2 separate regions of the Homo sapiens genome follow, and region 2 is linked to region 1. The links come from fine-mapping of genetic effects on gene expression. A gene starts in region 1. The other region holds a variant in brackets. All regions are shown on one strand. Distances are between the middles of the regions.

What was found.
Region 2: its variant is fine-mapped to the expression of PLXNC1 in whole blood (TOPMed, PIP above 0.99).

What each region holds. Positions count from the first base shown.
Region 1 is chr12:94,141,203-94,156,177 of GRCh38, reverse strand. It overlaps PLXNC1 (plexin C1), which reads right to left and starts at 7,601. Exons shown (of 31, transcript NM_005761.3): 1 at 6,145-7,601. The coding sequence starts at 7,206. It also overlaps the pseudogene RCOR2P1. RefSeq lists enhancers at 5,075-5,134, 6,475-6,574 and silencers at 5,335-5,494, 5,975-6,114, 6,775-7,014, 7,145-7,374, 7,445-7,694 and 1 more.
Region 2 is chr12:94,176,997-94,191,971 of GRCh38, reverse strand. It overlaps PLXNC1 (plexin C1), which reads right to left. Exons shown (of 31, transcript NM_005761.3): 3 at 10,392-10,526; 4 at 5,499-5,599. Among named protein-coding and RNA genes, the nearest start is that of PLXNC1-AS1, 8.0 kb to the right of the region's middle. RefSeq lists enhancers at 4,575-5,075, 6,242-6,743. The variant T/C (reference allele first, on the strand shown) is at 8,157.

The DNA.
Region 1 (14,975 bases):
AGTTAGTAGTATTCATTCTATACTTATTAACTCGTGAATCCAGACAATAATCCTATGAAACCAAGAGGATCACTATTTATAGATAAGAAACTGAGGCACAGAAAGGTTGAATAATTTGTCTACAGTCCCACAACTGGTAACTGGTAGCTTTGGTCCCAATTGACCTGGTTCCAGTGACTGTGCACATAACCATAACACAGCATTGCTTTTATTCCTAGATTACCATGTAATTCCATGTGTTTCTGTCCACAATATCCCTCATCCCTTTATCTGACCTTACTCAAGTAGATCTTTATTCCATGCAACCAACTGTACATGACTAGGATAGAAATTGGTAACAGGACTGATGTTGTAAAGAATGGACCCTTGGAGAGAATGTCTGGTGTGCGGAATTGGTTCTGGCGTACAGCACAATAGACGACTCTAGACATCCCCCCACATCTGGGAGTGAAATACAAATAAACTGTTATATGCAAGAGTGAAGGAGCTAATTAAACTATGGCTTACAGGTTTTTGAGACTCAGACTCTAAGCCCAAAAATGGCAAGTCTTTAAAGGGCTTTCTAGGTACTGCCTTTGATCAGTGAGGAGGGAATAAGGAATATCAGGTGGTAAAATGTGTTGGTTACTTTTTATGGCCCTAAGTAAAATGCAAGGGGAAAAAAAATGCGACAAGTTCCTATCCTAGGTGCCTCAGTTGGAACACAAGGAAAATTGTTTTATCTTACAATAGTGGTTCTTAAACCTAAGCATGACTTCAAATCACGTTGAGAGCTTGCTAAAATACAGATTGCCAGTCCCACCCCAACCTCCAGAGCTTCTGATTTAGTAAGTCTGGTGTAGGGTCCAAGAATGTGCATTTCTAGCAAGTTCCCAGGTGATATTCATGCTGCTGGGCCACAGTCCACACTTTAAGGACCACTGCCTACAGCATAAAGCCCTTTCCTCTCATAGTTGAAAGGCAATCAAAAATTACACCATAGAAGTTCCAACCATGCTAGGTTTCCATGGTCAAAAGTAACTCTCAGATTGGCAACACCAGAAGCCTGGTATTCCAATGAATGGAAGTACCTGGGAAGAGGTGAAGGAGTAAAGGACACCATGTAACCTAAAACTAAGGAAGGAAGGGGCCCTGACACATCAGGCATTAAGAAAAAGACAATGATTAAGGGAGTATGAGGTGACCAGACTCCCAGAAAGTGTTGCTGCTGAGTAGAGAAAACATTTCCAACATGATTCTCTACGATCCTTCATTTATTCATTCAACAAATATTTCTGAAGTCCCAACTACATACTGGGTACTATGCTAGGTATGGGGGGTTCAACAGAGAACACCCTTTGAGATGATGTATAGATCAGAACACCAACACTGTCTAGAAGTTCACAGTTAAGAAACTACAATCCTGCCAGAGTCAGAACTTCAGGTGGTCACCAATGCAAACCTAGAAACTCAGCTCATAACTAAGGATTCTCTGCTATCCTATGCCTGTGTCCACAAAAAGCTGGTCTTAGCATAGCAGTTGCAAGGGCTTAGCTTGCTCCATACAGGTTAGGGTTGACATCAGGACCTAATGTCCATGCTGACAGACTGTCCATGGCAGTGGACATGTACACATTATTGCATGTAGTAATTATTTAACCCTTCGTGCTTTGGTTTCTTTATTTATAAGTGGGGAATCCCATTTCCTTGACAGCAATATTCTCTGGATTCATGAGTTAATGTGTATAGAATAAGCACTACTTGACCCATAGAAAATGCCGTGTGCTTTGGATGTCTTTACTATCATCACCATCATGATTATTAATAGTAATAGGGTAGGGCTCCTTAATATAGACTTGTAAGGTGGCTAAAAGCTCAGGTCGTAGAGCTGGACCACCCAGGTTCTAAATCCTCTGCTATTTTCCAGCTATGGAACCTAACAGAAGCTCTCTGGGCCTTAATTTTCTCATCTCTAATCATCATGATAACTACAGTCCTTGCCCCATATGGTGAATGAGAATCAACAGAAAATAAGGCATGTAAATTGCTTCACACAAAACCTGGCCATAATAACTATTCAGTAGATAGTAGCTATGATTGCTTTCCCCTCTTTCTAAGTGGGTGCTGTCATGGCAATTGTCCTTTTTGAATCCATTTTTGCATATAATATGTGTATATGAGGGTAAAATCACCATCTAGTCTATAGACTGCAAAATGGCTTGACAAAATCATAACAGAAGCTGGAAGAGAAATAAACATCACAAGAAGACTGCGGATTTTGAGGTCAATAGGCTGCATCGCCAAGTGGAACTGGGATGTCACTTCTCCACACATGTTCCTTGGGTTGCTCTCTGTTGGGCAGCATGTGAGCATTCTGTGGTTGTCTGCATGACAGTTAAATTATGTCAGGCTTTAGAATTATGTAGGCGTGGAAGAAGGCGGTATGTCCCCCTACAAAGGGTAGAATGAACTAGAGAACAAACTAGAATGATCTAGAGTCCTGTGGACCAATACTGCAGGAAAACGTACTACCCTCAATGTCTACCGAGGGGTGGCTGCCATGTTTAAACCACGAGTGACCCCAGAACCCAACAATGGTGGCCAAACAAGTCTGGAGCAATCAGACTCCACAAACTCGAACACAAACACTTTCTGTGTATCACGTTGGTGTGCCAGGGGTAGTGAGAGTTCAGAAAGGTAGGAAGTCAAATTGATTAACTTGTGCATAATTAAAAACATTCATTTTTATACTAATCCAAGCACAGGTGTGTTATAAAAAAGAATGAAAAAAAGGAAAGAGACCACATGAAGTTCTAAAACACAAGCCAAGATTAGAGGCATGTACTGCCTTCTGAGGTTACCCTCTAGCCTCAACCCCACATCCTAGGGGAGGTTGTTTGCTGCCAATTTAATTAGGGGACCTTCAAGGGAAAGTTCGAGAAACCCTGGGGTGGTGGGAAGAGTAGAGATGTAGACATTGGAAGACCTGGATTTAAGGTGGAGGGCTTTGGCACTTAACTATCTTGAGCAAGCTGCTTAACGGATCTTTAGCCTCCTCATCTGGAAAATGAAATCATCCCCATAGAATCAACCTCAGACTTGATGCGGGGCTCAAAAGAAATAATACATGTGGAAGTGCTGTACAAATATCACAGAAGATTATTAGAGAGAGGGTCTACAGAAATCGGTTGCCTTAGCACATTTGAGAGCTGCAGTTAACCTGCTACAGTTATGAAAGTGGATTCAAAGTTGGTGGCAAGGCAGAAAAAGTAATGGTCCAGTGTGTAAACAGCTGAGTACACACTCATTACACAAGCATCTCGTAAATCACTGCTTAGCAGAAGCTGAAGGAGAGGAGGATCAGTGACAAGAGATAAGAGAACCAGAAAGTGGGAAAATACAACCCAGTCAGTCCTGTCACTTTTCTACCTATGGCTGATTGAAGACGGAAAATAAGAGCCAGCTAGGAGGAGAGGGAGAAAGAAGGCAAGCAAATCCAGCCGCTTGTGCCTTGCAGCCTGTGGATTACTGTTAAAATTACTGTGTCTGCTCTAAAGGAATTGCTGTTGGAATCTATTGAGGTTCCCTCTAGAGTGTTTCAAGTCCTGCTCCTGTTTTAGGCACCTATAATTCAGCATGCCTTTTCAAAAACACATTCAAGACCTGAAAATAAAATGCAGAACAAATGCAATCAAATGACATCATTCTTCTGAGTGACAGCCAGGGGCACACTGATCCCATGACCCCATTACACAAGGTTGCAATCTGCTATCGTCCTTTCAGTGGCAAAATCAGTGGCACCCAGCACAGAGCATTGCTTACACTAGCAGGCATCAAACAAATATTTGTTGAATTGAGTATCTTCTCTACCTATTTAATAGGTTAGAAAATTGTCAGCTTTTTCATCAAAACTACCACCCTTTTTCATTCAAACTCCTCTTGAAATTCAATTCCATTAAGGCTTTTCAATGCATACTAGCAGCAAGGAATTTACTTAAATGAAAAAAAAATGCAAAGCTCCAAGCTCCCACCTGTGCAGCCATGACATGCTATTGTTTGAACCAGAGTATATTATTTAACTTGGCTGACAAGCTCAGGGGGTACAGACCCTGTCTTTCAGAACACACAGCTCTGAGCACACTGGGAGTTCTTGATAAATAGCAGCAAGAAATGCTGTGGAGGGACCCATTTTAATTATTTATTTTTCCAGTTCCAGATTTTTGGCAGCATGTGTTTATCCTTTGCTTGATTTCCAAGGGGCAGCTCTCTCGCAGAAGCTCCGCGACTTCCTCTGCCACTGCCCCTCCCCATCCCGGCACAAGCAGGAACACCTGATTGAGCCAAAACGTGGATTTTGAGTGCATTCAAGATGCTGGCTGGGTTTGGAAGGGAACTGAGTCTTCCAGGACCCAATAGGTAGAGAGACGCAGTCAAGAGAAATGTTTTGGCTCCACACATCGACACAGCTGTCAGATGGCAAAGCTTGGACTTTCACCCTCATTACCTGCTGTGGGCCTCTGAGCTGGCTTGTCATTAACCCCAGAGACTAAGTGTGTCTAAAGCTTGACACAAAGTAATATTTCGGGGGTACTTTCAAGTCTTTCAACAGAGAAGTAGGAAACGATAATTTTACCAAACTTAAACCGTTAGATTATAAAGATCTAATAAAGACAGGAATCAAATATTACATTATATGTGTACGGCAACAGCAAGTCATTTAGGAGGCAAATATGTGTTTTTACATATTTTTAAAAATTATACCAGTAACAAAATGAAGGCCTTAATGTGTGTGTCCCAGCACACAGCTTGACAGGCAAAGAAGCAGCAGCAAGTGACCGTTCTAAGAAGCCTTGCAAAAGACCTCCTGGTTTTTTTCTCCCTGGCTCATAGGGCTAATATTTGGTAAGATGTGCTTTGCAGAGAAAGAAGGGGGTGGGGGAAGCTGTCTTTCTATACACATATTAATATACCTGGGAGCCAACGTGCCCCTGTATCAACACATTTTCCAAGCAGTGACTTCTCCCCTTCCTCTCTGATTCATTTTGTACCAAAACAATGGCAACACCTGTAGCCGTTAATTTCTGCGCTTTGATTTTTGTCCAGTTATAAAGGAGGCTCCCAGCAGGCTCCCCTCTCAGGAGCCATATGTGGAGTTGATGTGCCAGCCGCCTTGGAAGGGAAACGGCCTCCGGAGAAGTGCACAATGGCTCCATAATCCCCATCAACTGGACCCTCTTGAACTGCCTCTTTATTTTCCAGTCAAAGAAATGCCAATCTCAAGATAAAAGCTGTGGCTGCCCTGGGAGCCCAGGGGAAACCTGTATCGCTTGCCTGGTTCAGCCCCAGGGTGGTGACTCTGAGTCCCGCCATCTAGTCTCGCAATCTGGAGCCCAGAAACTGCCTGTAGCACCCCCAACACTTTCCCTTGCACTCCCCTCTAGGATGAGGCTTTTACCACAAGGCCACCTCCCGCCCAGCCTCTCCCGGCGGCTGGCGACCACAGCGCACCCTGAGCAGAGCCACGGCACCGCCCCCTCGCACCGGCTCACGCCAGGGGTTCGGTTCCAGCGCAAGCCTCTGTTGCAGGCTGGCATTTCTCCACGCTGAGCGGGCTAGCAACTCTTCAGACCACAGCACTTGCGTTGCCGGTGGGGGGCGGAGACAGGGGGCCACAAAGGCTGGGGTGTGGCAGGGAGCCCTTTAGGTTCAATGGCTTCTCTGCCGAGGGCACTGTGTTGCTAACTGTTGACCAAGAGGGTCAGACCCACACGCCTGCTGGGACTACACGGAAGGGGCACAGAGAAGTCTGGAGAAGCGAATGGGAAAGAGGGGCTGCGCGAGGAGACTCAGCCCCAAACAAGCGTCCCCGTTTGGACAGGGAAGGATGGCAATGGGATGCAGCCACTAGAGTTTTGAGTCTAACTCCAACCCTCCCCGCCCCCCTTTTTACACTCTCCCTTTGGGGACCTCAGGCCGTGCTCCAGGTCTCGGGGACCGTCCGAGAGGAGCCTTCGGACGGCCGCCCGCGGTGTGAACCTGAGACCTGGTAAATGTCACCCGGCTGTACCCCCGCCCCGCCGCTCGCCCCCAGCTCGTTCTGCCTCGGCGGCGGCGGCGGCTCCCCGGCAGCAGCGCTCTCCGCGGCGCCCCGGGGGCAGGACTTACGCAGTGGCTCTCGGCCGTCTTGAAGTCCCAGCTGACCCTCTTGGCGCGCGCCTGGATCTCACTCATTCTGAAGAGGCAGAGCGCCGTGGTGGTGGGGGAGCGCCGCTCCTGGCCCTCTCCAGCGGCCGCGCTGAACACTCCCGCCCAGACGTCCAGGGCCTCCACTAGGCTGGAGGAGAGGAGCAGGCGGCGGCCGTCGGGGTGGCCGTGGCCGCAGTCGAGGGATGCCTGGCCCTGGAACAGCACCTCGGTGCTCTGCGCGATGCGCGCCATGCTGGGCCAGCCGGTGGCAGCGCCGCTCGTGTAGTTGTAGGGGTAGTAGGGGAAGTAGATGCTGCCGTTCCAGAGAAAGGCGTCCACGAAGTGCAGGCTGCCCGCGCCCTCGCACAGCTTGAGGCGCCCCAGCTCCTGCGTGGCCAGGCTGCGCCCCTCCGTGTCCTTGAGCGCGATGGCCGTGTCGTGGTCGGATGCCGCGGGGTTGCAGCGGCTCGCCGTCTCCGGCTCAGGCAGCACGTAGGTGGCGGCCACCGCCAGGTACCAGCGGTTGTTCCGGCCCGCGCGGTACACCACGCCGGCCGTCGAGCCCTGCGGGTGGCACGACACCACCTCGGTGCCGTTGCGCAGGGAGTTGCGGCTCAGGTTGCCCAGGGGCCGCACCTCGCAGGCGCCCCGGTCGAAGGTCCAGCCGGTGAGCAGCAGCCCCCCGAGGCCGGCCGCCCCCTCGCGGTAGGGCAGCAGCAGCTTGCTGAAGCTGCTCCCGGGCCGGGGCCGCGCGGGGGGCGCCAGCGAGACCGGCTCTGTGCAGTTGCCCGCTTGGTCCCGGTACAGGCGCGAGAGGCTGTGCTCCAGGCTGTAGTCCAGCTGGTCCAGGCAGCTGCCGCTCGCCACAAACACGCCGTCCTCCTGGCTCGCCGCGATGGCTCCGATGGCTTGCTCCGACCGCCACACGGGCTCGTCCGCGCCCCGGCCGGGAGCCGCCAGTGCCAGCAGATAGGCGAGCAGGGGCAGTGGCGCTGCGGGGCGCGGGGGGCGCGGCGGCGCCTTCCTCCGGGAGACCTCCATGGGGCTGGGGGGGCCGCCCCCGGGCAGGGCGCGCGGCGGCGACGGCGGCTCAGGCGCGCGGCAACGGAGACGCGGGCGGCGGCGGCGGCGGTTCCTGCGCGCGCTCGGGCTCCCGCGGCCGCCCCATCCCCGCAGCTCGCCCAGGAAGGAGAGCGGGGAGGGCGGCGCGCGGCAGGCTCGCTCCGGCAGCCTGTGCAGCGGCGGTGGCGGCAGCAAGCCCTGCGCGCTCCGGCACCGTTTCCTCCTCGCCCTCCTTCGCCGGAGAGTTCCTGTGTGCAGCGCTGGCGCTCGCGGGGAGGCGCGGAGGGGAAGGGAGGGGACGGGCGGAGAGGAGCGAGGCGGGCGGGGAGGGCTGGAGAGGTTGGGTGCGCTTGTGCGTTTCACTTTCCCATTGTGAAAGTGGGATGCAACTGGCCCCCTTCCTCATCCTCTCTTCCTCCTCCGCCCTCCGCCTCCTGCCCGCCCGCCCGCCCTCCCTCCACGCCCATCTCCCCTCCCCTCTTGATTCGGTGAGATAGGGAGGAGGGAGGTCTCGTAATTTGGGTTACTGTGTAGGTGGCCTCTTTCATCTATTCATAACAAAGCTCAGCCGCCCGCCGCGGCCGCCGCGGCCGCCACCATCGCCCCCTTGGCTCGCCTGGGGCTCCCGGGGCGCGCTAACGGCGCACGGAGCGGGCTCCCGCGCCCGTCCGCCCGCGGTGCTGCTCCAACGCCCGGTTTTGTTTACGACAGCAGCCGGGTCGGGGATACGCCAGGCGCGCGGAGCGAGGATCCAGGGTGCGAAGGGGTTGCAGCTGAGGCCCCGGGCTCGGGCCACAGGGCTGCTGCGAGAGCGGCTGACAGGTGTGGAGCGGCGAGAGGGAGGCCCCGGGGAGGCGCGCGGGAGACATGGCCGAGCCGGAGACTCCGGGGACCAAGGCGCCCCTGTGACAGGGTGTGGGTTTCCCCGGGTCGGATGAGTGAGGTGGCAGAAAGGCAGGCGCCACACTCTCGTTCTGGACAATCCCCAGGGCCGGAGCGCCCATATTTGCAAAGGTTCTCTAATCTCCCTTGGCAACAGAGTCCCAGGCTCTCAAGCCTAGCACTTGGAAAGTTCTGCTCACCATCTAACCTAATGAGCGGGGCTAACATTTACTGAGCACTTACTACGTGCCGGGTGCGCTTGTGAACTCACCACATGGGTTAAGACTCATAATTCTCATAACAGCCCTATTAATTAGTGACTGTTATTGTCATCCCTACTTAGTAGTCCAGGAGAATGGTTATAGAAAGGTTGTGGAACGTGCTGGCATTCTACTGCTGGTAGATATCAGAGCCGAGATTCGAATCCATATCTAGCCCCAGGGCCTCTTACATACCTGGCTCTAGTTAAGTGCCACCTGTGGCCATTGCCATAATCCCCCAGAGATCATTCTCTGTAGTGAGACTGAAAAGTTCCTCAAGTTAAATGCACCAACCAGCCCCCGCCCTGCTTTCTACTATTAGACCCAAGTCCCCGTATTTCCCTCGAGGCTCTCCATCTGTCTCATCATTACCCACTTTTATCCTTTGGACCCCCTGAGGTCTCACCACCTCACCCAGAGGGTGAATAACAGCTGGGTTGCCCCCACAGCCGCCAAGAATTTCTGAAGCACAGGGAATCATTGCCCACTGGGGAATAGGTTCATGATTTCTCGGAATGGGGCTTCCCAGAGGATGCACAAATGCCTCCCAGCTTCCCGGGGCAGCTGCGGGCACCATCAGCACCCTTACAGTCTGGCAGATGAGCCAGGGGGTGCATAGGAGTGGAGGGTGCTGAGGACCTCTATGGATCGTTGGGAAATGATCTCTGTTCCTTCCCAGGCTATTTCCAGACCCCAGGCCCCAGGGAGGGCAATTGGCTGCTATCCCCTTTCTTCCTTCCCTCCAAGTTCCCCAGCTCGAGATGCTGTTTTGGGAAGGGAAAGGAATGAGGTGGCTTTTGTCCCATGCTGAGTCCTGCCGAAGGTTGCAGGTTTCAAACTTCTCCAACAGTGCTTCAAGTTCTCCCCAGTGCTGAGGGATATGGCAGGAGTTCTGGAAGGCTTAAGGAAAGAAGGGTGAGGTGGAGGGAGAAGAAGAGAAGTGTGAGTTTCTGCTCTAGATGTGAAGTTCAAGGATCCTATCATTTCAGCAGTGGCTCTCATACACTAAAGTCAGAGTGGTCATCTTTTCATTCATAAGCCTTTCATTTGCAATTGGATAACATTATCTTTGCCTGGCAGGAGGCAGAAAATGCCTTCCCACGAGATATGAGGTTGCCCTTTGTGCTGTGATGATGGTGTTGGAGTGTCCATAAGGAGAGGGGAGGAAGAAGGGGAAAGGCCTAAAGTACCCAGTTGGTGTTAATCGGGACATCTCAGGCAAGACAAGTCAGATGTTTCACCTGCTCCAAAATATCTGGCCTTGCTCCCCCACTCCCTGCCCTCCTGGAATGCTTTCAGAATTTTTGCACCTCTGGAAGTGGGAAGATCAATATTTTAAAAACCTCATCCGAAGCTCAGAGACCCCCTCCACAGCATAGTAGGGGATTTATGCGCTGGTGTTTTGACAGTTTTCCCTGTGACTGATGCAGAACTCAGTGACCTTCACTGGCTCCGTGAACCAGCGGTGGCAGTGTCGCTATGTGCTGAGAAGCAACAGTTCAATTCCATTCCAGAGATAGTTTTACTTCACTGGTAACCAAGTCATTTCTCTAAGTCCCGTAGAGTTGGTACAATCAGTCACAGACCATCTTGGGAGCTATTTGGATTAAACATACTCTGTGGTGCGGCATTTTGATCACTACTCAGTTCATTGCTGCTTCATTTTGAAAAAGAAACAACATCTTAAAAATACTACCCACAAGAAGTATAAATGGCTTTGATGGCTACAGTTCCCTGCCATTCTACTGGGACCATAAGCCCCACTCTTAAGAGTGGGCTTCTTTTGCCTCCCATTTAATTGTATGCAGACTCCTACGGTGAAAGAAATCAGAATCTGTGCTAACTTTTTGGCATGAAAAACGTAGGCGACGAGGAAGCATATAAATGCATTCTTTGCTGATTCTACCCCCATTTTGTACAAACATGTTTGCCCCTTCCCAATTTTCTTGTGTACTAAAGCTCCACCTTCAGGACACAAGTTCACATTTGAAAAGTGTGGGAAATACGAACAACTGAAATAAATATTTAGGCATGCGGGTTCTGTATCTCTTTGATCACTTTCTCTTGGACACCACCGTCTGGCCCAGGGGTGCAAGTCCCTTTGGTGACAAAGCTTCCCTCTCCAACTGGCCGAGCCCATCTTGTTGGGTGTCACTTATAGCACATTTCGGAACTCCTTGTAACACAACTGGCTGAAACCCAAAAAAAAAAAAAAAAAAAAGAAGATGGTGCAGATTTATCCTCCAGACAGAGGCCTGCTACCACGGAAACAGGCAGTTCAGACCGATTCTGAGCAGTTTTATTTGCAGCGTTCACTAGATGGGAAAGTCTTCATAATGAGAAAATATCAAGTCCCTCAGGCACCGAAGGCAATCTGGGTTAACCAGGCCATCCACAATCAGACTCATTTCTGGTGGACAGGACTTTATAGATTCAGTGGTTTCCTGCTGGGGCCCAGGACATTAAGAACTGTTCAGTAGGCAATTGGTCACAGTCACAAGATGGCTATCATTGGTGCTTCAGTTTTCTTTCTGATTTTCTTTCTTTTTTTTTTTTTTTTTCATCTGACAGTGGTCTGTAGCATGACTTGGCTGGCAGAGATTGAAAGCAACTGAGAATATTTGTTCTGGTGGTCAGTGAATTCTCTCTAAGCCTCATCTACATAGCTACAACCCCCTGTGCAGAATTTGGAAATACCACCCAGTGGGTGGAATAGTACCTGTATTGTCCTCTTAGGTTTTAAGCAGACCACTTCTTCCTCCACAGTTTTGCTGATATCTATGTGGTCTTCCACATCGAGGCCCTTATCAAAGCTCCCAGGCCCTTTTGGTGGCTGACAGGAAAAAGAAATGAGCCAGTCTTCTTTCTAGTCTGCTGATGAGTAGATGGTTGAAAAAAGATTAGAGGAAGAGCTGTTTAATAAGTTCGCATTGGTGCTGAGAGATGAGTTGGACACAGTTCAATCAACATGAAAAGTCTCTCTGACATGGCACAGTTAAGACGTGGCTGAAGGAACTCAGTGCCTCATCCTCTCTGCCCACCCAACATGGCCCCAGACGATTGCTGGGCATTCTTATGCTTGGTGATAGTGCCCCCATGCCATGGTTTAAAGTGAGGAAGGCTTGTGGTGTTCCTTCAGTAGGTGGGACTTGGGGGTCACTCCCAACATTACAGTTGTCATCTTTTTCTTTGTCATGATTTAATAGCTCATGGTCATTCGCCAGCAGAGTGCAAATGTACACTGGAGGGTGGAGTGGAACGTACAAGAAAATGACTCTTTACTCAAAGTCCAATGACTGTCTTTAAGCTAAATAAGAGCATTCACTCTGCTTTAGGGAGGGATGAGCTATTGCCTAAAAAGACATAACATAGCATAGCATAGCATAGCATAGCATAGCATAGCATAGCATAGCATAGCATAGCATAGCATAGCATAGCATAGCATGCCATAGCATAATATAATGTCAGATATGTTTAAGAGACTGCGAAGTCTAGGACATCACCTTAGCATTCTAGCACCACACTTCTCAGAGAGTATGTTTAGTGTCATGAAGTTTCTCTCGAGCCTTTTCTCCAAAACATTCACCAAAACCATCAGTGGTTAAGAATCTGAGACAATTACTGGTTGAAAGCAAAGTATGGTAAATCATCAACCATCACAGTGTTTTTCTAGACCGGCTGGAGTTCACCCTGCATGAAGTATGCGAACTCATCAGTTAATTACTTCTTCAGATTTGGGGAATCTCTGTAACTTGAGCAGTCTCTTGAAAATCAAGCTTTTCTCTGATATTCACAGGATTCCAGTCTGTCTCTCCTTGTATTTTCCTTGCTGTTCTTCGGAAATAGGAAGCCAAAAGGGCATCAAGGACTAGACACAAAACGCTGATTCCTCTTTAATACAACGTTGTTTCCCGTGTCTTTGCCCTCCCATCACAGCTCTGAGACTCGCTGTCAGCATAATCCTAGGCTCTGAATCCTCTGATAACTGGCAGCTTGGCATAAACCCATTCTAAGAGAAGAGCTGCCAGAAACCAGGCCTTCTTATTAATAATAACTCCAACTCTTGAAATGAATAGCAGAAGATAAGATAAACACGCAGATAACTTCACAGCCACTTGTACTTCCGCTTCCTTGAGATTCTGGTGGGGAGATGCTCTGAGCTGACAATAAAGTTGCTGGACTTCGCAGTGAGCCCTCTAGTGCTCTCCACCAAGCTGGTGTGGCTTCTCATTCTTATGTCCTTGCCACTCCCTAGAAAATAGCCCCACCAAGGTCGGGAGGAAGCAACCAATATCAGCTCTGAGCATGGGCTCTTGCGGTCGGGCAGTTTGGCGTATGGCCCCAGGGTGGGGGCAGCCCCACTCATCACCCATCCTGGGGAAGCCCTGGGAATATGGCAGTCCAAACAGCATCTCTCAGGCACTCATCCCCACGCACAGAATCCCAAATGCAAAGTTCATGGAAGACCGAGTGTTTGCCTCGCTCTCCTGCCCCTATTTTTTTTTTTTTTACAAAGCCTTCATTGAAGTATGACTGTCATACAAAAATCCATACCTATTTATTATATACAACATGTTGTGCTTGGAGATAAGTCTACACCCTTGAAACCATCACCGCAATCTCTTTCACCCCTTCCCTAGTCCTTCCTATTTAGTTCTTCTTCCCCGTCTGTGTTGAATAGTCTCTTCTTCTCCCTGCAGACCATTTCCCCACTGCTCCCCCTTTTGCTTGAGACCCAGAAGTTTGACATTTATGGACATCACCCTTGCCTTTTGGCTTCTCGTTGGATTCAGCCAATGGGAAGCCCCAGCCAGAGATCTAGGGGTGGACAGCTAGGGTGAAGTTTGAATATTTATTCTCCCAGCTCCCTCTCTGCTGATCTATGCATTGGCCATGGCTGTGTCCCTCTACAAGGCCACAGCTCCTGTGGGCTGTCCTCTCTCACAGCTACACTGTAGCCACAGCCTTTCGTGGACCCAGTAACCACTCCCTCACCCTCCTCCTCAGGCCTGTGGGATTCCATGGTTGTCGCTGTGGCTAGCCTCTGCTGGTCTCCCTTCATCCTGGCATGGCTCGGCCATGGTCCCTCAATTAATGTATCTGTTTGCATGTGTCACCTGTTTCCTGCCAGAATCATAACTAACAAACCAATCTACCTCCAAACATGGATCTAGAGGTGACCCCAAATGATGTTTAAACCTGTACATTCACTTTGTCCACTGATGGAAAGCAGAAAGGCTGCTAGTCAAAATGGAACTCCTTTGTTTCCAAATGGTTGGTTCCCCTGAATCTGGCAATGGAAAAAAAGCTACATTTTTATTCCCTTTGCACAGGCTTTCCTACACTAAATTCAACCCGGTGATACAGACAGATGGAAACCTGGCTGGGCAGGATTTTTTTTTTTTTCAGTTAAAACATAAAACTAAAAGAATCTTAAAAGTAAATCAGAACTACTGGGGACTAAGGGTTCAGAAGGTGGTGGGGGCAGAGGGTGGTTATGATCTCTAAAATTCTGCTGAACGTTTGAAATATATTTTCAAACAAGATACAAAACCAAGCATGCCGCTTTTTCCTTTTAAGACATTTCTCCTTAAGTCTGAACTCCAGCTGTCCCTTCAATAAAGTTGAGAAATTCCATTGATATTCATTATTACCAAAGCAGGATTATTAAGAGATTGCTATACTTCCTCATCTCCAGACCTCACCCTATGTCGCCCCCTACTAATAATGAAGAGATAACTTGGATGTTTTTGGTTCCTTTATACTCAAGGAAACCTATGTAGTAGAGACAGGAACCCTCTAAAGATGCTACTTTTTTTTTTAGAAGGTTTTTCTTTTTTAACTTTTAAAACATGTTGAAAAGTAAATCCATGTCTGCATAAGTTCCCAACCCACATTTCTCCAAGCTTCTGGAAGGTGGGCCTGGTGGGCACCCTCAGCTCCTTAGTGTTTCCCAGCTGGCCCCTGAAGACAGAACTTCCCTTCCAGCCTCTGCTGCTGTAAGGCCCCTCTGCCACCTCCCCCTGCAGCCTCCCTTCCCACCTCACCCAAGACTGATTGCTAAAAGAAGGGAAGAGGAATGAGAACAGCCAGCACACCCAACTGTCCTGTCCCACCCCCACGCTAAGGTCCCTACCCCCGACACACAAAGGGCAGGGCCCAGAGACCAAGCCCCAGCCAACTAGGAGGCAGCCATTCCAGTCCCAGCAAGGAAGCGAAAGTGCCCTCAGTCCAGCTCAAAGGCCCCTGAGCCCGGGCCATGGCCCCAAGAGACAGGCCCAGCTGCCAGGAACACATGCAGAACCCACAGGTCCAGGCTGGGCTGTCGGCAGCTCTGGGTCTTGGAAAGACCTGGCAAGAGCCCTAGCCCCTTCCGTCCTCAGTGACACCAGAGATGCCTGGGGATGGCCAGCAAAGAGGTCCTGGAGCCTGTGGTTGGTGGAGGACCTCAGGATTCAGAGTGAGGGCACTGGGGGCTCCAATCAGGGTGGGTAGGGGCGGAGGGCCAGGACAGGCAGCCAGAGCGGGGAGGATGAGAGGTGGTGGGCGCTGGTTGGGGGCCAACCAGGGCTGGAGGAAGCGGCCCTGCTGCACTGTGGGTGGCTG
Region 2 (14,975 bases), 36 kb before region 1:
TTGCAATATGGGAGAAACTGAGAAACTGCTTCCAAACCCAAGATATTCAGCCTGCAAAAATTCACTTTCCACCCACACAGACAAATTCAGCACAGGTTGGATCTGAGGTTCCAACAATAAAATACTAGACTTTTTAGAGCTCATTGTTTATCTAATTGCTTTTTATCTACTTATACTAGATGCCTATTCCCTTTTTTTTTTTGAGATGGAGTTTCACTCTGTCACCCAGGCTGGATCTTGGCTCACTGCAACCTCCGTCTCCTGGGTTCAAGTGATTCTACTGCCTCAGCCTCCCGTGTTGCTGGGATTACAGGCATGCACCACCACACCTGGCTAATTTTTGTATTTTTAGTAGAGACAGGGTTTCACCATGTTGGCCAGGCTGGTGTTGAACTCTTGATCTCAGGTGATCCACCTACCTCAGCCTCCCAAAGTGCTGGGATTACAGGCGTGAGCCACCATGCCCAGTCTGGATGCCTATTCTTAACATCTGATCAAAAGGAAGTGAAGATAGTTTTCTTGCCTCTCCCCACCATTCCACTTTCTAGACATGTATGCAAGAAAACTCAACCTTCTCAACAGAGAAAATAAATTATTTTTCTAAATAAATCCATGACATTTAAAATAAACACAGTGGGATGCTCTACCATTATAAGAAAACATCCCCCTTTAGAATTCCTAATTTTGAATGGTACTGGGAGCTTCATATGAGTCACAGATATGAGACTTAGTTTCATTTCATTGTAGGCCAGAACCCAGGCTGTCTGAAACCAAGTGGTTTCTGACATGGCTGTGAAGGGCCATCGCTCCATGACTTCAGAATGTCTTATAAGATTTAAGGCACAAGTCTTAACCTGCTATTGGCAGAGTCGACCAATCACTCAGCCTATCTCATTCATTTAACTTATGTTTTTCTGAGCACATTTCAATAAAGAGAGGTAGAGAAGTAAGGTCATTCCTAATAGTGATGGGCCATGAAGAAAATAAAACAGTAATGTCACTGTGAGTAAGGGGAGGCTACTGAAGACTGGGTAGGCAGGTGCAGAGAGATGTGTGCTCTAGGACCAGACCGTCAAGAAAGAGTCTGCCATAGAAAGATGTGGGGAAGAATGTACTAGACTGAGGAAACAGCACATGCAAAGGCCCTGGGGCAGGAACATGCTTAGCATAGTCTTAAATCAGGATGTCTGGGGTTAAGTAAACAAAGGAGAGAATGGCATGAGAGGTCAGAGAAGTGGTGAAAGGCCAGATCACGGAAAGCCTGGTATGCAGGCCCTGGCAGCAAGGGAGTCAGACTGAGTTCTAAGATGGAAAGCCAGGGGAGGGTATTAAGCTGGGGAGTGACATAATCTGATTTGGATTTTAAATGAATCACTCTTCTTGGAGCGCACTGGGATAGGGGTGAGGGAGCAAGAGCAGAAGCAGGCTTTTGGCCAGGTGTGGTGGCCCACGTCTCTAATTCTAACACTTTGGGAGGCCCAGGAAGGAGGATTGCTTGAGCCCAGGAGTTCAAGACCAGCCTGGGCAACATGGTGAAACCCCGTCTCTACAAAATACAAAAAAAACCTGGGCATGGTGGTGCACACCTGTGGTCCCCACTACTTGGGAGACTGCAGTGGAAGGATCACCTGAGCCTGGGGAGGTCTAGGCTTTAGTGAGCTGTAATTGCACCACTGCACTCCAGCCTGGGTGACAGGATGAGACCCTGTCTCAAAACAAACAAAAGACTATAACTCACAGCCAGTTATCAACAGAAGCCCCCATGTCTTCAACCTCTTCTCTGATTGTTCCTTTCCCCTTCTCAATATTACTGAAACCAGCTCTCCTTCGAGGCCACAGCTTCCCCAGGCCCCTCTCAAGGCCTGGCTGCTTCCTCTCCCTCATCTAGCTGTCCTATTTGTGTCTTGCAGCCTCTTCTGGAAGATCCTTCTTCTCTCTTTCCAACACTTCCTCCCCAGCTTCAAAGCCCATGCTGTCAGCTCAAACCACCCCAGGTCCCTCCTCATTGTGATCATTACAGACCACCCCAGCCCTGGCCACTTCCCTTCGTTCCTTGAATATGTAGCTCCTCACTCTCTTGGTGACTGCGATTTCCACACAGATGATGGAGCCATTTAGTACTCTGGTAACCACCTCAGTTCCTTGACACCTCTCTGCCAATGATCTTGACAATCATATGGCAGACCCTGTCATTGCCAATAACTCCATCCCTCCATGACCTCAATATCAAGCCCCCACAGTCCAATAATTCCCCTTTCCAATTCTCTAGTTCCAACAATTTTTTTTTTTTTTGAGACAGGGTCTCACTTTGTCATCCAAGCTGGAAAGTAGAGGTGTGATCTCAGCTCACTGCAACTTCTACCTCTGGGACTCAAGCAAGCCTCCCACCTTAACCTCCCGAGTAGCTGGGACCAGAAGCACATACCACCACACTCAGCTAATGTTCATATTTTTTGTAGAGATGGGGTCTTTGCCATGTTGCCCAGGCTGGTCTCAAACTCTTGGGCTCAAGTGATCCACCCACTTTGGCCTCCCAAAAAGCTGGGAATATAGGTGTGAGTCACCGCGCCTGCCCCTAACAATCTTTAAACTCAACTTGAACTTCCAACACAGACCCTGCCACCTTTTCACATCCCTACCCCTATCAGGTCCTTATTTCCCTCCTTAGAGCCCAAGTGCCATCATTATATGAATCAACATCCATATCGATATCATCATCCATTCCTTACATGCTCCCTCAGCTCCCTGGCCACTCTCTCCTTTCTTGATGTATTTTCCGGCAAAGCCCCCAAACTGGCTAAAGCTAACTTTTTCTGAGTCTACAGCTATACCACCAAAGCTGAACGCAGCTTGAGAAAGACAAAACCATGCTTACAGCTCTCACTTCAAACACAGGACCATCAACCTCAAGTGGGCCCTAATGCTTCCTGGCAACCGCTCGATATTTCCCTATTCTATTCTCCCTCCTAGTCTTCCAGTCCACTCCTTCTCTCTCTTTTCTCCTCAAACCTCCAGTGCTTCCTCCCTCACCTCATTCTCAATGGCCGTAGGCCACTGAAAATAATGTGAGCAATAGGAGAAGACACCACACAGGCCTCTGCCACCTCCCCATGCTTGGGCCCAGAGTCCCTACCTTCCCTCCTACCACTGAGGGTGAGGGGCCAGTGCTCCTGTCTGAGGCTGGCCTCCCTACTGGCACACCAAGTCATATTTTCTTCCACCTGCTGAAAGACTGAACACTCCACAACCCTTCTCTCTCCTGTATCATCCATTTCTCCTTCTCTTCTGGAATTTTCCCAACAGTGCAGACATGCACTGTTATTTCATGCATCTTAAAAAGACAAAACTGGCTGGGCGTGGTGGCTCACGGCTGTAATCCTGGCAATTTGGGAGGCTGAGGCAGGCGGATCACCTGAGGTCAGGAGTTCGAGACCAACCTGGCCAACATGGTGAAACCCCATCTCTACTAAAAATACAAAAATTAGTCGGGCATGGTGGCACGTACCGGTAATCCCAGCTACTCGGGAGGCTGCGGCAGGAGAATCGGCTTGAACCTGGGAGGTGGAGGTTGCAGTGAGCCAAGATCATGCCACTGCACCCCAGCCTGGGAGACAAAGCCAGAGTCCATCTCAAAAAAAAAAAAAAAAAGGACAAAAAGACAAAATTCTTTGGACTCTACTTTCGCTTTCAGTGTCTGCTTCATTTTTTTCAGCTGCCTTTCTCAGTAAAGCTTCTCTAAGCTGTCCCTTCTTAAGGTCTTATTTTCCCATTGTCTCTTGTGGATTTAGCGCCACTCCTAACCATGGCATTCCCAGCAGTCACCCATTGTCACCTGCTAAGTGCAAAGGATCCATTCTTTTCTTCTCCTGCTTGACCTCTCAGCTGAATCTGACCCAGTGGATCACTTCCTCCTCCTTTCTTTCCTTGGCTTCCAGGAGACCACCCTCTCCAGTTTTTCCTCTTCCCCTTCTGACTGCTCCCTCCTTATTTCTTGTTCTGTTTCCCCTCCTTCTCCCCAACCCCTAAACACCACAGCCCCTCAAGGCCCAGTTCTCAAACTTCTCTCCTCAATCAACACTCACTCCTTCGTCTGGTCTTAAGGCTTCTCTAAGTACCATCTAAAATACTACCAACTCCCAAATTCATATCACCAGCTTGGAGATCTCCCAAAAGCTCCAGAGCTGAGCTTGTTAATACGTTAGCCGCTAGCTCCATGTGGCTATTTAATCACCACCATCATCGCCACCATTATCGAATTGACTCCTGTACACAGCTCTACAAATACAGACAGGGATGCTACATAAATGAATGGATCTAAAAGATTATGGCAAGACTGCTCACTGAGTGTGCAACAAACAAATCCCGTTCGTGATCAGTGAATTATTCATGAGCATTTTTCTGGCCCTTGCTTCGTTTGTCTGCCAGTGACTCTGACGGAAACAGCCCGGTAAGGAAGCGTAGCAAATGGCAGGGGCAATTATTCCTCTTGCTGCAGCTCGGATTGCGCCTTCCCCCGTGAACTCTTAATTAATTCCATCCCCGTATTTTTGATTTGTTTCCTAAACCTCTTGCTTGTATTGCATTTCCCCCTCTCCCTTCATTTCTCTTGGCTGTCTCCCCCTTCAGTCACCAATTCTCTTCCTCCTGCTCTTTTCTAAACCCAAACTGTCCCCTGGTTCAGCCTTCAGCATCTCTCCACCTGCTCTGCTCTTTCTTATCCTTTTCACCTTTAAAAACTGAAAGCACCAAACTGACAGACACTGTTATGGGTTTTTTTTTCTCTCTCTCTCTCTCTCTTTCCTGCCTGAGCTGCAGCGAAGGCTCTCTCCTCCTTTGCTTCTCCAGCAAGAGCCCCAGTACTGGGTTGCCATGGCGACGGCGAATCCAACCAGGCCGGGCCCAGCGACGCTAGGAAACTGCCATGGCGGGGAAGCCGCTCCGAGTCGCCCCTGAGCCTAGATGGGTCGTGAGCATCGTCATTCCAGACCAGGCTGGGCAGATTCTGCCCGGAGACTGAGATTGTACATCAGGCCCACAGCTGCGCGGCGCATTAGGAGACGGCGCCATCAATAACGAGGCTTCTGCGGAGCGAACAGAATACATGACATACATGATGGGGATTCAGCTGAAAAATTTTCAGACATCTCTATTCTTTTATCTTCTCGGAGGGGGGGCCCTTTTGCCTCTCTCTTGAGTCTTGGCGAACTCTGGAGAAAGTAAAAGCCAAACCTGCCTGCTCTCTCCCGTTCTCCTGAAGGCTGCACACCTGCCCCTCCCGCCCCGAGACTGGGGAGCTCCCGGGTCCAGTGATTGCATAGCACGGACGCCGCTGGAAACACCTTCGAGAATTCATTAGGATTGCACAACAAGATTTTAGTCGAGGAAGAGATCAGTTCCCTCAGGTCACTGGAATGGATCGTTAAAGTAGGGCAACAAGTGTTCTGCCGCATGACACTTTTTCAAAAATGCGAGTTGGTGAGAAAGAATTCAGGAGATACCTTTGTAGCGAATGGCACCAACCGCAGTGAGGGTCTGTGGCTGTTAAACACTCCGAACAGGATTTATGTTTATTGCAGTTTGCAACACGAATTCTCCTCACCTAAAAGGAAAGAGGACAATGGTTCAGATGGAATTATAAGCAACAGCAGGAAAACTACAACACCTTATCTAATGAAGGGCCAAAAAGAGCCTATTTATCAACTTGAACTCAACACCTCCATACTGGCACTGGGCAGTGGGTCTCAAGATCTAGGACATGAAGTCATTGTATCACAATCACCTGGGGAGCTTTTGACAGTGCGTATTCCCAGGCCTCTGCCGCAGAGACTCTCGCTAAGTCTGGGGGCAGAGCCTAGGAAGTTGTATTTTTTCATTTAAAAGATTTTTTTCTTAAAGACACAGGGTCTCACTACGTTGCCCAGGCTGGTTTTGAACTTCTGGGCTCAAAGCACTCCTCCCAAAAGTGCTGAGGTTGCAGGCGTGCACCACTGTGTCTGGCCAGGAATCTGTATTTTAAGAGCTCTCTCTCAGGTGAGTCTGACACCCAGTTGGGTTTCCGATCTGCTAATGATGATTTCCATACGGATCATGGAATCAGGTTGCCTGGTTTTCATACAGAGACAGTCCATATGTGGCCAATGGCATTTTGGAAATGAGTATTAGGGAATAACAAAGGCTCTGCCCCAGGAGTGTCAGCAGGAGTTTGGCACTCAATGTGGAAACGAGGAGGACCAGGGACGAGGCCCTCCCACACCCCTGCCAGGGGCAGCGCCGTCACCTCAGCTCCTGGCTTGTTTTGCTCACACCCCTCCAGTGGAGTTGAAAATAAAAGAAACAGGGGGAGTAGTCAAATCATTTCCCCATCCCTAGAGCTGCCTCTTGCCATTGTCAGGAAACAGCAGCCCACAAAGAGGGCACCCCAGCTGGGCAGACCCAGACATCTAGGCAGCCAGTCAGAGCCTGCAAGTAGGGCGGTGAGAGGCAGGGAGTAACTGAGCATCACACAGAGCACTTTCTGCAGGCAAAACCACACAGCAGGTAGTAAGGGAACTTGTGGAACTCATTATGCCAGGAAGTTGTACATGCTAGATAGTATAAATAACTTCTTTAGCAGGTTAGAGAAATAAGGAGTTCTAGAAGGGACCTCTCTATTTTTCTCTATTTTGTGAGGAAAACAAGGACTATCCTGAGCTGGATCCTTCAGTTCCAAGTTGACTTCATGGAGGATAACCACGCCCTTCCATTTCATAGTCCCCAACACTGCTGACAGATGCAGCTGGCAGCCCGTGATCCTGAGCCGGAATTAACCAGAATAGAGGTATTTCCTTGTAGTTCACAAATGCCTCTGTAACACTGATGGATTTTAATAAGTGTCATGCAATCTCTCTAACCTTGTTTCCTCATCTGTAAAATGGATCACGACTTCATGGGGTTATTATGAACTATTGTCTGACAGGTACTAAATGTTCAATAAGTATTGGTTACTGCTATTATGCAAGAAAAGGGCTCCATGATCCAGCAAACATAAAACCTCAGACTGAAAAAGCAAAACGGGTTTCCTTAGCACAGGGCTTCTCGGAGCCTTTGACTATGCTGAGCCTCACAGTATTCCAGGAGGGGTATAGTAAGTAACAGCTGGTTCTGGGACCACTTTTGCTCAGAGCATTCTGTGGAATATGGGTCTCCAGAACATTCTCTGAGAACTATTACTCAGTCTATTTAAACACACAAATATAACTCTGTATAAGAGGGAGGACACTGGCTGGCCGTGGTGGCTCACACCTGTAATCCCAGCACTTTGGGAGGCTGAGGTGGACAGATCACTTCAGGCCTGGAGTTGGAGACCAGTCTGGCCAACTCTGTCTCTACTAAAAATACAAAATTTAGCTGGGCATAGTGGTGGGCGTCTGTAATCCCAGCTAGTCAGGAGGCTGAGGCAGGAGAATCTCTTGAACTCAGGAGGTGGAGGTTGCAGTGAGCCAAGATCACACCACTGCACTCCAGCCTGGGCGACAGTGAGACTCTGTTTCAAAAAAAAATGAGAGAGGGCCAGGCGAGGTGGCTCACGCCTATAATCCCAGCACTTTGGGAGGCTGAGGTGGGTGGATCACCTGAGGTCAGGAGTTTGAGACCAGCCTGACCAGTATGGTGAAACCCCGTCTCTATTAAAAAAAAAAAAATACAAAAATTAGCCGGGCATGGTAGCGTGTGACTGTAGTCCCAGCTACTAGGGAGGCTGAGACAGGAGAACTGCTTGAACCTGTGGAGGCGGAGGTTGCAGTGAGCTGAGATTGCGCCACTGCACTCCAGGCTGGGTGACAGAGCAAGACTCCATAAAAAAAAAAAAGAGAGAGAGAGAGAGGACACTAAAAATACTACATTAGACCTGCCCTCTAATTTAATAACAGACCGTAGTGACTATTCCATATCAATGCCTACATCTCCATATGATTATTTTTAGCGGCCCCGTATCATACCATTTTATGGATATCCCATAGCTTATTAGTTTGGCTGTTCTTATCTCCCCAAGAGCCTTCCTTGGACTTTGTCTCTTTAGGCGTTATATTTGCTCAGCCAGAGTTCAAACAGTAGGATCTCTAGCAGTAATCCTCAGTGAAGAATGCAGGGCTAACCAGCTTTGATGCCCAGTCAAAAAC[T/C]CTTCCCAGGACTTCAGGCTTTGAATGATCAGAGGCTAGAACTTTTTGCTTTCTAGAAAGTGGGAACCCATCAACTACTGGTGGCTTTTCATAATGGTTCCCAGCCTGGGGTCCTGAGTTCTGGGGTTCCATTACTATCCATGAAGGAAGTAATGGGGGCTTATGAGCTATTTGCAATATTTCAGACAGCTGAATGGAAAAACACGCATGGATTAAGGAAGATATCAAGTTTCTTTGCTTTGGGTTGGAATTTTATCAGCTCCATGTGGGAACACAGTCAGTACTCTGACCGGCAGTTTTGAGACGCCCTTGATAAATAAACCCTGGGAATGGGAACTGTTACTTAATATGTGCAGTTTGTTGGGTAGACAAAAGTCTTTCAAAGATGGGATCCCCAGGGAAGAAACATAATACAAAGTGTCTGCATGGTGAAGCAAATTGGCATAGGAGATTCTATATGGTGAAGGACTGGTTTACAAGCTCTGTGGGAAGATGTGGCCATCTCAGTGTGGTCATTTTGATATAACTGACTTTTCAATGTGCAAAGAACAGTATCGTCTTTATAAGAATACCAGAAACTACAAATTGCTTGCACATCTTATCTGTGACTCAAAAAGCACATGTAGATTGCTGTCATTGCTATTTTCCTTAGAATGACTGAAAGGAAAAGAATGGAAAACCAGGGTTGGGCTGAGAGTATCTGTTACATCCATTATATAATTATGTAAGTCTCAATTATCTTCTTTGCACTTTCCATGTTCAAACGGTCATAGGTCAAAACCACTGAGCCAGGGAATGTCCAGTTTTCACAAATTTTGGATTTAATATCATTTATCAGAGGCTTTAGAATCAGGGTTGAGTTTTTGTCACAGCCCTGCAAAGGCTAACCTATAGATAGATAGATAGATGATAGATAGATAGATAGATAGATAGATAGATAGATAGATAGATAGATACAGATATTCTTGAACAAGTTATTTAACCTCTCCAAGTCTTAGATTCTTCACATAAAATAAATTAATAACACATTTATTTTTATTAAATTAATAACACATTTCTTTTTCTTCTTCTTTCTTTTTTTTTTCTTTTTTGAGACAGAGTCTCACTCTGTTGCCCAGGCTGGGGTGCAGTGGTGTGATGTCAGCTCACTGCAAACTCCACCTCCTGGTTTCAAGCGATTCTTGTTCTTCAGCCTCCCAAGTAGCTGGGATTACAGGCATGCACCACCACGCCCAGCTAATTGTTTGTATTTTTAGTGGAGATGGGGTTTCATCATGTTGCCCAGGCTGGTCTTGAACGTCTGAACTCAGGTGATCCCTGCCTTGGCTTCCCAGAGTGCTAGGATTATAGGTGTGAGCCACCATGCCCAGCCTTTTTTTTTTTTTTTTTTTTTTTTTTGAGACAGGGTCTTGCTCCATCACCCAGGCTAGGGTACAGTGGTTTGATCATGGCTCACTGCAGCCTTAAACTCCTGGCCTCAAGTGATCCTCCTGCCTCAGCCTCCCAAAGTGCTGGGGTGACAGGCATGAGCCACTATGCCCGGTCAGTAACACATTTCATTAACACTGTTTTCTACACTTGTGTGTATGTATATGTACACAATTCTATGCACCTAGACAGAGATCATGCAAAGAATAGTGACTAATGCATAGTAGAGACTCATTAACAATTAGTTTCTTTTCCCCTTCCCTTGGTGACAGCACTTGGTAAAGATGAAGAAAATATAAAAATATATTACTTTTATTTCAGTAAGCAGAAGCAAAAGAAAAGCCAAAACAGCAAGATAAATGAAGAGGGGGAGGGGGAGTACCATATATTTCCTGGTTCATGAATGTGTATGAGACTGTGGCCTGATATTAACCCCAAATTCCAAAGCCAGTCCCATTGGGTATATTCATAAATGCATCTAACCGTTCAGTGCCCACACAATAAATGTGTAAATTCAGTTACCTTGCTGATTATGCGCCCATTTCCAAGCACACCCTCCTCTGAAAAACTTGGCACTGGAAATATAGCCAATAATAAAATTGTCTAAATAGATAATATTTCTTGCTTACTTACTGACAGTCAGTAAGGTTTTTAATTCCGTGCCTGTGAACCACTGCGGGTCTCCTCAAAGCCTGGGGCACTGCTTAAACTCTGTAGTTCAAAGTAAAAGCTTTGCTACTAGATAATGACATCAATTAAACCATTTTTATTCATAAATCAGAAGCAATAACTAGTATTTCTACCTACCTCTTTCCCAGCTGTTAGATAAATGTAGATATTCTTCACAGGATCAGGAACGAGTTTGTAGAAAACAGGTGTCTCTTCTTTAATTTCATAGATAACCTCTGGACAATTTGAAGTCAAATTCTCACCAAGAATAACCTATTTTTTTTTTTCAAAAAGAGAAACATGATTTCTATTTAATACTTTTTTTTTTTTTTGAGACGGAATCTCGCTCTGTCGCCAGGCTGGAATGCATTGGCATGATCTTGGCTCACTGCAACCTCCGCCTCCCAGGTTCAAGCAATTCCACTGCCTCAGCCTCCCAAGTAGCTGGGACTATAGATGCACCACACCCAGCTAATTTTTTTTAGTAGAGATGGGGTTTCACTACGTTGGCCAGGATGGTTTTGATCTCCTGACCTCGTGATCCACCCGCCTCAGCCTCCCAAAGTGCTGGGGTAACAGGTGTGAGCCACCACTTCCGGCCTCTATTCAACACTTTGAATAGCAGGGTGGCAAAAATTGTAGCTTAATCATAAAGCTACATCCTTTTTCACTCACTACAAATACTGCCTAAGGTACCATGCTCCTTAATCATCCTCCCACATCTCAGTCCTCAACAAGGCTGGTAATAACAAGCATAATATTTCTTCTTTTGTAAAGGCAAAGTTACCAAAAATGAACAAACAAAAAAAGCCGCTCTTCAGGGCTGGGGTAGTATCCTCATATGTGGAAGCTGGCTGACCACAATTTCTGACCATGTCTGGCCCTATAGGAAGCCACAAGTGACAGCTTCATTAGTGCTGTCTCAAGAGAGACTGGAAATTAAAGGAAGTAGCTCCCACATGTATTTGCACAGGATACTCTGATCATCATACAGTTAGAAGTGACCCAGATTAACTTGGCAGATACAGACAAGTAGGTTTGTGTTCACATATAAAATATACGCAAGTGTGACTCAGTACTCAGTGGTTTTGAAATTGGACACACCTGAGCTTCATCCATCTTCAGTCAACAAACATCTACCCAACACCCATTATGTACCCAGCACTGTTCTGGGTGTTTGAAAAATGGCAGTGAACAAAATGGGGAAGGGAGAGCTCCTGACCTCATAGAACTTACATTCCTGTGTGTGTATGGTGGGGTGAGTAACAGCAGACTATTAATAAGAAAAAAGTAAATTATAAAATATAGTGGGGTCAGGGGTTAAGAGAATATATGTTCAGGGTAGGTGTCACTGAAAAGGTGATATTTATTTAGACTTGCAGGAGATGAGTTATTTTCATACTTGAATGAAACATGTTCTTAAAAGCAGCCCTGTCAGTGCAAAGAAACTAAAATGGGAGGAGGCCAGGGTGGCTTCAGTGGAGAGAGGTAGAGGAGTGAACAGTAAGATAGTAAGATAACAGGGGAATGATAATCAAGGGTCTTGTGGGCCTGTGTAAACAGCCTGCCTTTTACTGTAGATGAGAGAGAGGAGGCCATGGCAGGGCTTTGGGTCAAGGAGCAAGAGGAGATGGTAAGAAGGCAGGGTTTGAAGTGTGGGTATGAAGAGCCATCGGGAGACTCGAATCCTATAGTGCTAGAGAAGTATAATGGTGGCTTAAGCTTGAGTTTGCATCCTGCCTCCATCCTTTAAGTAGCTGCACTACTTTGAACTGGTAACTTAATCTCCCTAGGCCTCAATTTCCTCATCTCTAAAATGGGGCTAATAGTGCCTTCCTTATTACAGTTTTGTAAGGATCAAATAAGAACTATGAAAGATGCTTAGCACATAATCAATAGTCAATAGATAATAATCTGTTACTAGATTGCAAGCTCCTTTTGCGCAGGGACCATGTCATTTTTTTTTTTTTTTTTTTTTGAGATGGAGTCTTACTCAGTCGCCCAGACTGGAGTGCAGTGGTGCGATCTTGGCTCACTGCAACCTCTGCTTCCCAGGTTCAAGCCATTCTCTTGCCTCAGCCTCCTGAATAGCTGGGACTACAGACATGCGCCACCACACCCAGCTAATTTTTGTATTTTTAGTAGAGACGGGGTTTCACCATGTTGGCCAGGCTGGTCTTGAACTCCTGACCTGAGGTGATCCGCTCGCCTCTGCCTCCCAAAGTGGTGGGATTACAGGCGTGAGCCACCGTGCCTGGCCTGGGACCATGTCTTAATCACCTTTGTACCTAACCTTTAATCTTCTTTGTACCTAACACAATTTGTACCCACTACTTTGAAAAGTGAAGGTGTTCAACATTTTGTCAGTTTGAACACATCCAGATAGATTATCTGTATTCATATCTCTACCACTGTAGACATCAGCCACATTGGGCGCATGGTTTCAAAAGAAAAATTTGGCACCTGAGATTCTTTTTGGACAAAGTCTACTTCACACATCTACTAATCAATAATATGCCTGTTCCCACATATCCTGATGGCAGTTAGGGATTTGCTGTTTAGCCAAAGGCTTCTTATCAATTTTGCACAGAGCAACTTCCCGCATTCACTTCTCCTTTCCAGGACCTGGGCCCGAGTCTAGCTTTGCCCTGCGATCAGTGACTTCCTTCCATCATCTGCTTGGGCCAAGCCCAGGTGGATTTGGTGCAAATAGTGGCTCACTTGAAGCCCTTGGACTGCTCATCAAATTCAGCAGCAGCTTTGTAAAAGTCAATCTCACTAACCAAACATATGAAATATGACTTCTTAAAAGCTCTTTTTAAAACAGAAGCAGTTAGGTCCTAAGGGAGGTGGGAAAGGTGTGTGTCTCAAGTCATTTTAAAACGACTTTATAGCTGCACTATCAAATATGACAGCCGCTAGCCACATAATGGCTATTTAAATTTAATTAAAAATTTACATTTAATTAAAAACACTAGCAACATTTCAAGTGTTCACTAGCTACCTAAGGTGACTGGCTACCATACTGGAGAGTACAGATGTAGAACATTTCTATCACTACAGAAAGTTCTCTTGGCCAACACTGCTCTACAGAATCCTGTAAGTGGAGCCAAGGGACAGGCACTGACCAAGGTATGGGCTTGCCAGGATTTGCCGTCTCTAATTCATTAGCTGTATTAATCAGCTCAGATTCAGTTGATCTGGTTCTGGAAAGCAGTTGTATAGGGAAAGAGAAACAGGAAGCCAGTTTTTGTTTTTTTTAAACAAACACTGATAGAAATATTATCAAGGAAGGGTCAAGAGAAGAGAAGCTGCTGCCCTGGTATCTCTTCAGGAATTCATCATGGCAAAAGCATCATTGGGCAGCACCACCCATAATGTATTCTTGCCAATAAAGTTGAAACTGAATCTAGTCAAGTCTTTAGCACTAACTTCCATTTAGCACTAGGAAGCAGGAGTAGAGGAACAAGCTAAATGACACCACAAGGAAGCAAAAAGCCAAACACATGATAAGAGACATTCTATAGGGCAAAATACCTGGTTTTTTCAGTTAAGTCAGTGGCAGGGAATAAAAGTAAGGGAGGAGACTGCTCTAGATAATAGAACAACCAAATTTGGTTTGAGGACTTTGTGCAGATACCAATTTGAACAAAACCATTTAAAATACCTTTTTGAATCAATTGGGAATACTTAGTTACACAGACTGGATAGTAAGTGATCCTAAAGAATGACTGATAATTTTATTAGCTGTGATCATGGCATTATGGTTACTATTATTTAAGAAAACAACTGTAGGTTTTGAGAGATGCATAACGAAATATGTTGAGGTGAAACGACATCATGTCTGTGGGGTTTGCTTTAAAATAACAAAGTAAAAACATACTTTACACCACCACTCATCCATTTTACGTAAATTAGGAGCTGCACTGCAGTTTTTATTGGGGGCTTATTTTATTTACTCTTGGAGCATCATTGATACAGATGGTCAGCAAGATCTAGTTGGGTGCAACATTGATTTATTTACTTGGTACCTTGGAAATGAAGCATCAATATTCTCTCTAGAACTCTGAATTGTGGCAAGGAAGCTTTTCCTTTCCTTTCTCCTCTCCTCTCCTCTCCCTTCCTTTCTCCTTTCCTTTCCTTCCTTACCTCTCTCTCTTTCTTTTTCTTTCTCTCTCTTTCTTTCTTTCTCCCTCTCTCTCTCTTTCTTTCTTTGTTTTTCTTTCTTTCTTTTTTTACAAGTTATCAAAAAGTTCTGTGGCCCAGGATTTACCAATCAGTTTCCTGAAAAAGCTACTTAGCGTGGCTTGCACTGAAGCTTGTCCTGATAGCCATAGATGCTGGGTTTAAATTAGTATGTTTCCTCAGTGGTGGAAGCCAGACCTCTCTAGAAGGTAATTTGGCATCATCTATCAAAATTACAAAGGACATACCCTTGGACCCTGCAGCCCCTCATATATATATACATATATATATATATATATATATGTATATATATACACACACATATATATATACGTATATATATATACATATATATACGTATATATATATATACATATATATATACACACACACACATATATATACACACACACACATATATACACACACACATATATATATACACATATATATATACACACACACACACACACACACACATATATATGAAATGACATATATTCATTGTAGCATTGTATGTTATAAAGAAAAGATTAA